Linked DNA regions of Homo sapiens: region 2 is linked to region 1. Evidence: fine-mapped expression QTL. A gene starts in region 1. The other region holds a variant in brackets. All regions are shown on one strand. Distances are from middle to middle.

Evidence for each region. PIP is the estimated chance that this variant, and not a neighbour inherited with it, causes the effect.
Region 2: its variant is fine-mapped to the expression of DALRD3 in whole blood (TOPMed, PIP above 0.99).

The regions. Positions count from the first base shown.
Region 1 is chr3:49,015,670-49,021,036 of GRCh38, reverse strand. It overlaps DALRD3 (DALR anticodon binding domain containing 3), which reads left to right and starts at 2,457. Exons shown (of 12, transcript NM_001009996.3): 1 at 2,457-2,637; 2 at 2,719-3,014; 3 at 3,168-3,424; 4 at 3,524-3,603; 5 at 3,681-3,809; 6 at 4,190-4,263; 7 at 4,364-4,425; 8 at 4,526-4,608; 9 at 4,697-4,879; 10 at 4,951-5,064; 11 at 5,165-5,233; 12 at 5,330-5,367. The coding sequence starts at 2,473. WDR6 (WD repeat domain 6) reads right to left here. Exons shown (of 6, transcript NM_018031.6): 6 at 5,086-5,367. MIR425 (microRNA 425) reads left to right here and starts at 803; the gene lies at 803-889. MIR191 (microRNA 191) reads left to right here and starts at 328; the gene lies at 328-419. It also overlaps a transcript of NDUFAF3 not described here. RefSeq lists a silencer at 3,227-3,461 and enhancers at 2,910-3,681, 3,967-4,036.
Region 2 is chr3:49,208,678-49,214,044 of GRCh38, reverse strand. It overlaps IHO1 (interactor of HORMAD1 1), which reads right to left. Exons shown (of 8, transcript NM_001135197.2): 2 at 2,209-2,279. The coding sequence starts at 2,264. Among named protein-coding and RNA genes, the nearest start is that of IHO1, 12 kb to the right of the region's middle. The variant TTG/G (reference allele first, on the strand shown) is at 2,439.

The DNA.
Region 1 (5,367 bases):
ACTTCCTCTCCGGCCCCACGGGCGCGCTTCCCTCCTGACGGATTCCGAAGCCCGCCCCACCACCGTCACCGCACCAGTGGCCCAGGCTTCGTGGGACCAACAGGGCTAATCCTGCCCCACGGATCTAATCCGGATCGGGACCCGGTCCCAGGGGAGGCCCCCACCTCCCCTTCTATTGTTCTGTGGCCCAGGTGAGCGTCTTGTTCCCTCTAGACTCCGTTTCACAACCTACTCCCGGGTCTTCCTCCTGGGACTGGGGATGGGCGGGTTCTGATGTGGCCCCAGGGCGAGTGACCTGGGGGCAGGAGCTCCCCCGCCCCCCGCCAACGGCTGGACAGCGGGCAACGGAATCCCAAAAGCAGCTGTTGTCTCCAGAGCATTCCAGCTGCGCTTGGATTTCGTCCCCTGCTCTCCTGCCTGAGCAGCGCCCTGGCCCAGATGGGGTGCCCCTGACCCCCAGACATACTTTACTGAGCTGCTTGGGTCTCAGTTCCTCTCAGTTGCGCCCTCAGGCTGGAGGTGATGGGTGTAGACGTGGGAGAGCCGAGGCTGGTGGCCATCTCTGGAACCCTGGGGAGGATTGGCGAGGGAGGGTGGACCCAGGACCTCTGGGTAGGGCTGCAATGGTAGTGACTCCCCCAGGGCTGCCTCAGCCCGCATCTCGCTAAAGATAGCCCTCTTACTTCCTGGGGAAAAACCACCCCAACCGTCTTCGTGGATGAGAGTATCTGAAGTCCTCAGTTTGACTGAGGGTTCCCAACCCTGCTAAGCAGTTGTCTCCAGGTCATGCACCTTCAGAATGGAAAGCGCTTTGGAATGACACGATCACTCCCGTTGAGTGGGCACCCGAGAAGCCATCGGGAATGTCGTGTCCGCCCAGTGCTCTTTCGGCGCCTCCCAGCAGGGCCTCAGCCCTGGCCCAGAAAGGGGCCTTGCCAAGCTTTTCCTGCCCCTGGGTTTCCCTGCTCTCCGGATTTCCCAACTCTCTCTACTGAGTTAGCTTCTCTATTAAAAGGAATGGGGGTGGGGTGGGGGGTGAGTAAGTTACAGTGAAATGAAGACATTTGGGAACCTTTGTGGGAGAAAGAAAAAGACCTTTCCTATTGGTAGAGGAGCAAGATACTCCAACTGAGGCCTATTTTCTATTATGGTCGCATTATTTGGTTGGCCCGTAAATGGCTGTTGCCTAAAACAGGAAGCTTTAAGGATCGTTGTTAAAGCACACCAGGTTAAAGGAGTCACATTAAAAGCTGGTCATTCTGAGCCGGGCGCGGTGGCTCACGCCTGTAATCCCAGCACTTTGGGAGGCCGAGGCAGGCGGATCACCTGAGGTCGGGAGTTCGAGGCTTGACAAACATGGAGAAACCCCGTCTCTATTAAAAATACAAAAGTAGCCGGGCGTGGTGGCGCGTGCCTGTAATCCCAGCTACTTGGGAGACTGAGGCAGGATAATCACTTGAACCCGGGAGGGGGAGGTTGCGGTGAGCCAAGATCACACCACTGTACTCCAGCCTGGGCAACAGGAGCGAAACTCCGTCTCAAAAAAAAAAAAAAAAAGTCTGGTAATTCTGGAAGCCATCATGATGGTTGTGATTTCTCAGGTATCAAGAGAAGAAAACCGCCAACTGTATCAGAGTGCTTATTTATTGGGCATAAAGACCACCCGGGCTGGGTGCAGTGGCTGATGCCTGTAATCCCAGCACTTTCGGAGGCCGAGGCGGGCAGGTCACGAGGTCAGGAGTTCGAGACCAGCCTGGCCAACATGGCGAAACCCCGTCTCTACTAAAAATACAAAAATTAGCCGGGCGTGGTGGCGGGCGCCCGTAATCCCAGCTACTCGGGAGGCTGAGGAGGAGAATCCTGTGAATCCGGGAGGTGGAGGCTGCAGTGAGCCGAGATCGTGCCACTGCACTCCAGCCTGGGAGACAAGAGCAAGACTCCGTCTCAAACAAACAAAAAAACACCCATATCTCAAACGAGAAAATGCTTGCAAATAACCTGAAACCGCGGAACACTATTCTTTTTAAAACGAGATATTTTAAGTAGGTCGTGAAAGTGGCCTTAATGTTATACTGCCTTATTCCAGTGACGAATATTCATCATGTGTAAAATGGGAGAAATGAAATGTTATTAAAACAAACATGTGAGACTTCGATGAGAAGAGACGGTACCCGGTCTAAGCGCCCACCGGGTCGCGAGGATCCTTTTCCTGGTTAAGGCCTGGGTCACAGCGAAAGAACCCTAGGCCCAGGGAGGGCCCCGAGATTTCAGATCCGGGGCCCGGCTGTGCAGGTGGACCACGCGGAAGGGGCGCTGGGGGCGGTAGGTCGAAAGCAGCCGACAGGGCTACCACTGGCGCACCTGTCCACTTACGGGGACCACCGCCGCATCCCCGCCCCAGCTAGTCGGTCCTTTCCGGAAGTTCCACCTCCCTAAATTTTTTTCCGGTTCCGCTTACTCCTTCCGGTCACCATGGCGACCAGGCGCCTTGGGGTCGGGGAGACGCTGGGGGCCCTCAACGCGGCCCTGGGGCCAGGCGGTCCGGTGTGGATCAAGGAGACGCGCACCCGCCACCTGCGTTCCCGAGACTTTCTGGCACCGCACCGCGCGCTGCAGGCGCGCTTCGATGACGGCCAGGTGGGCGTGAGCCGGGCGGGGCCGTGCGGCCGGGAGATGGGCCCCGTGCCGTGGCTCTTTTACACGCCCGTTCTCCCGCAGGTTCCGGAGCATTTGCTCCATGCCCTCGCCTGCCTGCAGGGCCCCGGTGTGGCCCCGGTGCTGCGCTGCGCGCCGACCCCCGCGGGTCTGTCTCTCCAACTGCAGCGGTCCGCCGTCTTCGAGCGCGTCCTCAGCGCCGTGGCCGCCTATGCCACGCCCGCCTCGCCTGCCTCGCTGGGCCAGCGCGTCTTACTACACTGCCCAGCACTGCGCAGCTCCCCCTGCGCACTCCGCTTGAGCCAGCTGCGTACGGTGCTCGTGGCCGATCACCTGGCGCGAGCCCTGCGCGCTCACGGGTGAGCGGGGCCGCGGGGCCGGAATGGAGAAAGTGGGACTGCCGGGTACCTAGAAAGCGAGCGGCGCCGCCCGTGGGGACTGCGGCTGGAGGTGGGAAGTCGTGGCGAGCTGGACCAGGTGCTCAGACTGAGGCGGCCGCCCTCCCTTCGCAGGGTGTGCGTGCGCCTAGTGCCAGCTGTGCGGGATCCGCACATGCTGACCTTCCTGCAGCAACTGCGGGTGGACTGGCCCGCTGCCTCGGAGAGAGCTTCCTCCCACACCCTGAGGAGCCACGCCCTTGAAGAACTTACCTCTGCTAATGACGGGAGGACACTGTCCCCTGGCATCCTAGGCAGACTGTGTCTGAAGGAGCTGGTGGAAGAACAGGGCCGCACAGCTGGCTATGACCCCAACCTGGACAACTGTCTGGGTAGGACCTGAAGCCTAGCAGGGCCAGAAAAGGCAGGAGGGGGTTAGGGGCACATCTCTGCTTCTTGTCAGTCTCAGCACCTGTCTGTTCTCTTTTCAGTGACTGAGGATCTCCTCTCTGTGCTGGCTGAGCTGCAAGAGGCTCTATGGCATTGGCCCGAGGACAGCCACCCAGGCCTGGTTAGTGACTCCCAGCCCTGTAGGTTCTCCCAAACCAAGTATACTGTACTTCCACAGTTATGATTGTCCTCCCTTAGGCTGGGGCCTCAGATACTGGTACAGGCGGCTGCCTGGTTGTACATGTTGTTAGCTGTGAGGAGGAGTTCCAGCAACAGAAGTTGGACCTGCTTTGGCAGAAGTTGGTTGACAAGGCTCCACTCAGACAGGTAGGTTAATAATGATGGTGGAGCTCCCCACCACCTAACCCCCAACCTCAGAGGGCCCTTGAAAACCCACCGAGGGGCTTGTTAGCTGACAGAAACCAACACTTGACCTTGGGGGAGTTGCTGGACTTGAGAGGGCATGTACAGCAGGTGCAGAGGCTCTGGGGAAGGGGGGTCTGTAGACACATCCCAAGAACACTGAAGACCAGGTTGAGAAGGATGAACCATGCGTAGCCTGAGTGGCTGGGTAGACGGAGGCACTCAACCTGGCAGTTCCAATTTGAGGGAGTCTGGGCTGAGTAGAGGCACCAGATTTGGGCTCCTCAAGGGACTTCCTGGAGAGTAGCGCCAACTAGGCTGAGCCCCTGACATCTTTCTGACAGAAGCACCTCATCTGTGGCCCTGTGAAAGTAGCTGGTGCACCTGGCACTCTGATGACTGCCCCTGAGTACTACGAGTGAGTGAGGCTGGGAGGAACACCAACCTAAGCCAGGGTAATGAGGGGGGACTCTTTACCCAGGACCCTGCCCACTGGCCTTCCTCTCTTCCAAACACAGGTTCCGGCATACCCAGGTGTGCAAGGCCTCAGCACTGAAGCATGGTGGGGATCTGGCACAAGGTGTGCCTGGGAAACCCTGGCTATGTTCTGGGTTAGGGGCAGGTTTTTTGCATCCCTGCCCTTGCCTGCAGACTGACTGACCAACCCTATACTCCCTCAGACCCAGCCTGGACAGAGATCTTTGGTGTTCTCTCTGTGGCCACCATCAAGTTTGAGATGCTGAGCACAGCCCCACAGAGTCAGGTGAGCCTGGGAGCCTGACAGGGCCAGTGTTGGGGCACAGGGTGTGGTGGCTGCCTTCTCTCTCTGCAGCTGTGCTTCTATTCCCCAGCTCTTCCTGGCTCTGGCTGACAGCAGTATCTCCACGAAGGGCACAAAGAGTGGCACCTTTGTCATGTATAATTGTGCCCGTCTTGCCACACTCTTTGAGAGTTACAAGTGTAGTATGGAACAAGGTCTGTACCCCACTTTTCCTCCTGTGAGCAGTCTGGACTTCTCACTGCTACATGATGAGGTGAGTGTCCCTCCTGGTAGCTGGCACAAGGAGGCCTGGACTTCCCCTCCCAGCACCTTTCTCCCCAACAGGGTGAGTGGTTGTTGCTCTTCAACAGTATCCTCCCCTTTCCGGATCTGCTGAGCCGGACAGCAGTGCTGGACTGCACAGCCCCGGGGCTCCACATTGCTGTACGCACAGAGATGGTGAGGCATAGACAACCAGGACACTCTACACTCTATTCTTTATTCTGGCCTGGGGCACAAGAGCAAAGAGATGGGCCAGTGACTCAGTCTCTGTCTCTAGATATGCAAGTTCCTGGTACAGCTCAGCATGGATTTCAGCTCCTACTACAACCGGGTACACATCCTGGGGGTGAGCACACAGCAAAATGGGGTGGGACGTGCAGAGAGGTATAGGGTAAAGGCAAAGGAAGCAGAGGATGAGACCAGCAGGCCCTTTCTCTTTCAGGAGCCTCGACCACACCTCTTTGGTCAGATGTTCGTCCG
Region 2 (5,367 bases), 190 kb before region 1:
CAGCAGATACAGAAGAGATGAAGAGAAGAAGAGTCTGTATGAGGTACCTCTGAGAGGTGACAGCATGCTGGCAGCCCTCGCTTGCTCTCGGAGCTTCCTTGGCCTTGGCGTCCACTCTGGCCATGCTTGAGGAGCCCTTCAGCCTGTCGCTGCACTATGGGAGCCCCTCTCTGGGCTAGCCGAGGTCAGAGCCAGCTCCCTCTGCTTGCAGGGAGGTGTGATGGAGAGGCACGGGCAGAAACCAGGGCTGCGCATGCACTTGCGGGCCAGCTCGAGTTCCAGGTGGGCATGGGCTTGGCAGGCCCTGCACTCAGAGCAGCCAGCCTGCGCCGCTGGCCCCAGGCAGTGAGGGGCCTAGCACCTGGGCCAGCAGCTGTGGAGGGTGCACCGGGTCCTCCAGCAGTGCCGGCCCACCATGGGCTCCTACGTGGCCCCAGCCTCCCTGACTAGCACTGCCCCCTGCTCCGTGGTGCCCGGTCCCATCGACCACCCAAGGGCTGAGGAGTGTGGGCACATGGTGTGGGACTGGCAGGCAGCTCCGCCTGCGGCCCCAGTGCAGGATCCACTAGGTGAAGCCAGCTGGGCTCCTGAGTCTAGTGGGGACTTGGAGAAACTTTATGTCTAGCTAAAGGATTGTAGATACACCAATCAGCACTCTGTGTCTAGCTCAAGGTTTGTAAATGCACCAATCAGCACTCTGTATCAGCTAATCTGGTGGGGACTTGGAGAACCTTTATGTCTAGCTAAGGAATTGTAAATACAACAATCAGCACTCTGTGCCTAGCTCAAGGTTTGTAAATGCACCAATCAGTGCTCTGTGTCTAGCTAATCTAGTGGGGACTTGGAGAACCTTTATGTCTAGCTAAGGGATTGTAAATACAACAATCAGCACTCTGTCTAGCTCAAGGTTTGCAAACACGCCAATCAGCACCCTGTGTCTAGCTCAAGGTTTGTAAATGCACCAATCAGTGCTCTGTGGGGACTTGGAGAACTTTTGTGTCTAGCTCAGGGATTGTGAACACACCAATCAGCACCCTGTCAAAACGGACCAATCAGCTCTCTGTAAAACAGACCGATCAGCTCTCTGTAAAATGGACCAATCAGCAGGATGTGGGTGGGGCCAGATAAGGGAATAAAAGGAGGATGCCCGAGCCAGCAGTGGCAACCAGCTCCGATCCTCTTCCACACTGCGGAAGATTTGTTCTTTCACTCTTTGCAATAAATCTTGCTCCTGCTCAATCTTTGGGTCCGCACTGCCTTTATGAGCTGTTAACACTCACCGCAAAGGTCTGCAGCTTCACTCCTGAGCCAGCAAGACCCCAAACCCACCAGAAGGAAGAAACTCCAAACACATCCAAACATCAGAAGGAACAAACTCTGGACATGCCGCTTTTAAGAACTGTAACACTCACCGCAAGGGTCTTTGGCCTCATTCTTGAAGTCAGTGAAACCAAGAACCCACCAATTCTGGACACACTTCCATTATTATAACCTGATGGGAAGGGAACCCTCTTTTTTTTTTTTTTTTTGAGATTGAGTCTCACTCTGTTGCCCAGGCTAGAGTGCAGTGGCGCAATCTCAGCCCACCACAAGCTCCGCCTCCCAGGTTCAAGCAGTTCTCCTGCCTCAGCCTCCCCAGTAGCTGAGATTACAGGTGCACACCACCTTGCCTGGCTACTCTTTGTATTTTTTTTTTTAGTGGAGATGGGGTTTTGCCACGTTGGCCAAGCTAGTCGTGAACTCCTGATCACCTCAGGTGATCCACCCACCTGGGCCTCTCAAAGTGCTGGGATTATAGGCGTGAGCTACCATGCCTGACCAGGAACCCATTTTCTATGAAATCAATGAAACTGGAAAATCCTTTTTTTTTTTTTTTTTTTTGAGACGGAGTCTCGCTCTGTCGCCCAGGCTGGAGTGCAGTGGCGCAATCTCGGCTCACTGCAAGCTCCACCTCCCAGGTTCACGCCATTCTCCTACCTCAGCCTCCTGAGTAGCTGGGACTATAGGCACCCGCCACCATGCCCGGCTAAATTTTTTTGTATTTTTAGTAGAGACGGGGTTTCACCGTGTTAGCCAGGATGGTCCTGATCTCCTGATCTTGTGATCTGCCCACCTTGGCCTCCCAAAGTGCTGGGATTACAGGTGTGAGCCATCATGCCCGGCCAGAAAATCCTCTTAAGGATCAGACAATATAACCAGAAAACTTACCCAGAGCCTGAAGGAATACTGAGCATCTCTTTGATATTCCAGACATTAAAATTCATTTCTTATAGTTATACCTATTAGAAAGAATAGGTGAATATTAAGAAAGTTAACAGTATAATTTTTTCCAAAGATTACTAGTGACTATTATATGTACACGAAGACATTCCAGCAGCTATATTCCCATCCAATTAGTGAAAATTTCTGTTTTTTTTTTTTGAGACGGAGTTTTGCTC[TTG/G]TCACCCAGTCTGGAGTGCCGTGGCTCGATCTTGGCTCACTGCAACCTTTGCCTCCTAGGTTCAAGCAATTCTTCTGAGTAGCTGGGATTACAAGCACCCGCCACCACACCTGGCTAATTTTTGTATCATGCCACTGTCTCAAAAAAAATAAGTAAATAAATAGAAACACAAAACCATTTATATTTGCACCCCCAAAAAAGAAATACTTAGGTATAACTGTGACAAAATATATACAATATCTATATGAGGAAAACTACAAAACTCTGATGACAGAAATCAAATTAGAACTAAATGGAAGCCGGGCGCAGTGGCTCACGCCTGTAATCCCAGCACTTTGGGAGGCCGAGGAGGGCGGATCACTAGGTCAGGAGATCAAGACCATCGTGGCTAACAGGGTGAAACCCCGTCTCTACTAAAAAATACAAAAAATTAGCCAGGCGTGGTGGTGGGTGCCTGTAGTCCCACCTACTCAGGAGGCCGGGGCAGGAGAATGGCATGAACACAAGAGGTGGAGCTTGCAGTGAGCCGAGATCGCGCCACTGCACTCCAGCCTGGGCGACAGAGCGAGACCCCAGCTCAAAAAAAAAAAAAAAAAAACTAAATGGAGAGGCCAGGAGCAGTGGCTCACATGTGTAATCCCAGCACTTTGGGAGACCGAGGCGGGTGGATCACTAGGTCAGGAGATCCAGACCATCCTGGCTAACATGGTGAAACCCTGTCTCTACTAAAAATACAAAAATTACCTGGGTGTGGTGGGACGTGCCTGTAGTCCCAGCTATTTGGGAGGCTGAGGCAGGAGAATTGCTTGAACCCAGGAGGCAGAGGTTGCAGTGAGCCAAGGTCACACGACTGCACTCCAGCCTGGGGCGACAGAGTGAGACCCCATCTCAAAAAAAAAAAAAAAAAGCCGGGCGCAGTGGCTCACGCCTGTAATCCCTGCACTTTGGGAAGCAGAGGCAGGTGGATCATTTGAGGTCAGGAGTTTGAGAACAGCCTGGCCAACATGAAGAAACCCTGTCTCTACTAAAAATACAAAAAAATTAGCTGGGTGTGGTGGCGGGTGCCTGTAATCCCAGCTACTCAGGAGGTTGAGGAGGAGAATCACTGGAACCGGGGAGGCAGAGGTTGCAGTGAGCCAAGATCGTGCCACTGCACTCCAGCCTGGGCGATCGAGTGAGACTCTGCCTCAAAAAAAAAAAATTAGCAGGGTGTGGTGGCACAAGCCTATAGTCCCACCTACTTGGGAGGCTGAGATGGGAGGATCACTTGAGCCCAAGAGGTCAAGGCTGTAGTGAGCTAAGATTGTGCCACTATACTCCAGCTTGGGCGACGAAGAAAAAAAAAATCTCAAAAAATTATCTCTCAAACTATGTCAAAAAATTAAAAATAAAAAATTTAAATAAATAAACAAGCTAGGCATGGCAACATACACCTGTAGTCTCAGCTACTTGGGAGGCTGAGGCGGCAGGATCACTTGAGCCCAGGAATTCAAGGCTTCTGTAAACTGTGATCCCACCACTGCATTCCAGCCCAGGCAACAAAGCAAGACCCTGTCTCTTAAAAAAAAAAAAAAAGAAAGAAAGAAAGAGGCTGGGTGCGGTGGCTCATGCCTGTAATCCCAGCACTTTGGGAGGCCAAGGCAAGTGGATTACGAGGTCAGGAGATCGAGACTATCCTGGTTAACACGGTGAAACCCTGTCTCTACTAAAACAATATAAAAAATTAGCCGGGCATGGTGGTGGGCTCCTGTAGTCCCAGCTACTTGGGAGGCTGAGGCAGGAGAATGGCATGAACCCGGGAGGCAGAGCTTGCAGTGAGCCGAGATCACACCACTGCACTCCAGCCTGGGCGACAGTGCAAGACTCCTTCTCAAAAAAAAAAAGACATGTCATTTGCTTTTTGCAAATACATATAAACCTCAAAATACCTTATACTCATGGAATTAGAAATACAAGCCTTTTTTTTTTTTAGATGAAGTCCCACTCTGTCACGCAGGCTGGAATGCAGTGGTGTTATCTTAGCTAACTGCAACCGCTGCCTCCCGGGCTCAAGCTATTCTCCTGCCTCAGCCTCCTGAGTAGCCGCAATTACAGGCATGTGCTGTCACTCCTGGCTAATTTTTTTTTTTTTTAAGTAGAGACAGGGTCTCACCATGTTGACCAGGTTGGGCCGAACTCCTGACCTCAAGTGATCCACCTGCCTTGGCCTCCCAAAGTGCTGGGATTACAGGCGTAAGCCACTGTGCCCAGCCAGAAATGCAAGCATTTAAAAGGCCCTTATAGTTCCAGGTATCTGACAGTGTGCCAGCATCAAAGGGGTGAGTCTAAGGAGGTCCTGTATGACTAGAAGGTAAAAAAGGTAGTCTCTCTCAGTCTACATGACCAAACTCCCCCCTTAATGTTGAGAATGAAACCAGCAACTCCAGTTAACTGGATTAAACAGGAGAGATTCAATATATGTGTGGTAGAAGATGAAGTAACATTTCTTCCTTTTGATTAGTTATCCTGCCTTTACTTGTGCAGCATGTCTGTGTTTACCACATGGTTTACCCAAGCCTGAGATGTCCATCTTCCCAGAATTCAACCAGAAGAAAGATGTCCTACAAAGGTCAGGAAGCTGTCAATTATATTCAGTCATGACTGTTCAACCCCTACCACACAAGAGGTCTTTAGATCATCCAATTTTATACTTTCTATGAAGTATGGAGTTTTCCAATGGTTTACATAAAAAGTACACTGTTCCTTGCTCTTGAGTGGATCAAGCCCCATGTACCCTCTCTGTTGGTAGTGGATTTTGAGATGTCGATGTTTAGATTTACAAAGGTTGCAACTCTGGACAGCATAAGTGGGGAAAACAGAATAGGAGCAAAGTAAGCAAGTTCTTTGTTAGCTGAATAAAGATAAAAAAAACACATAGAGGTGATTAT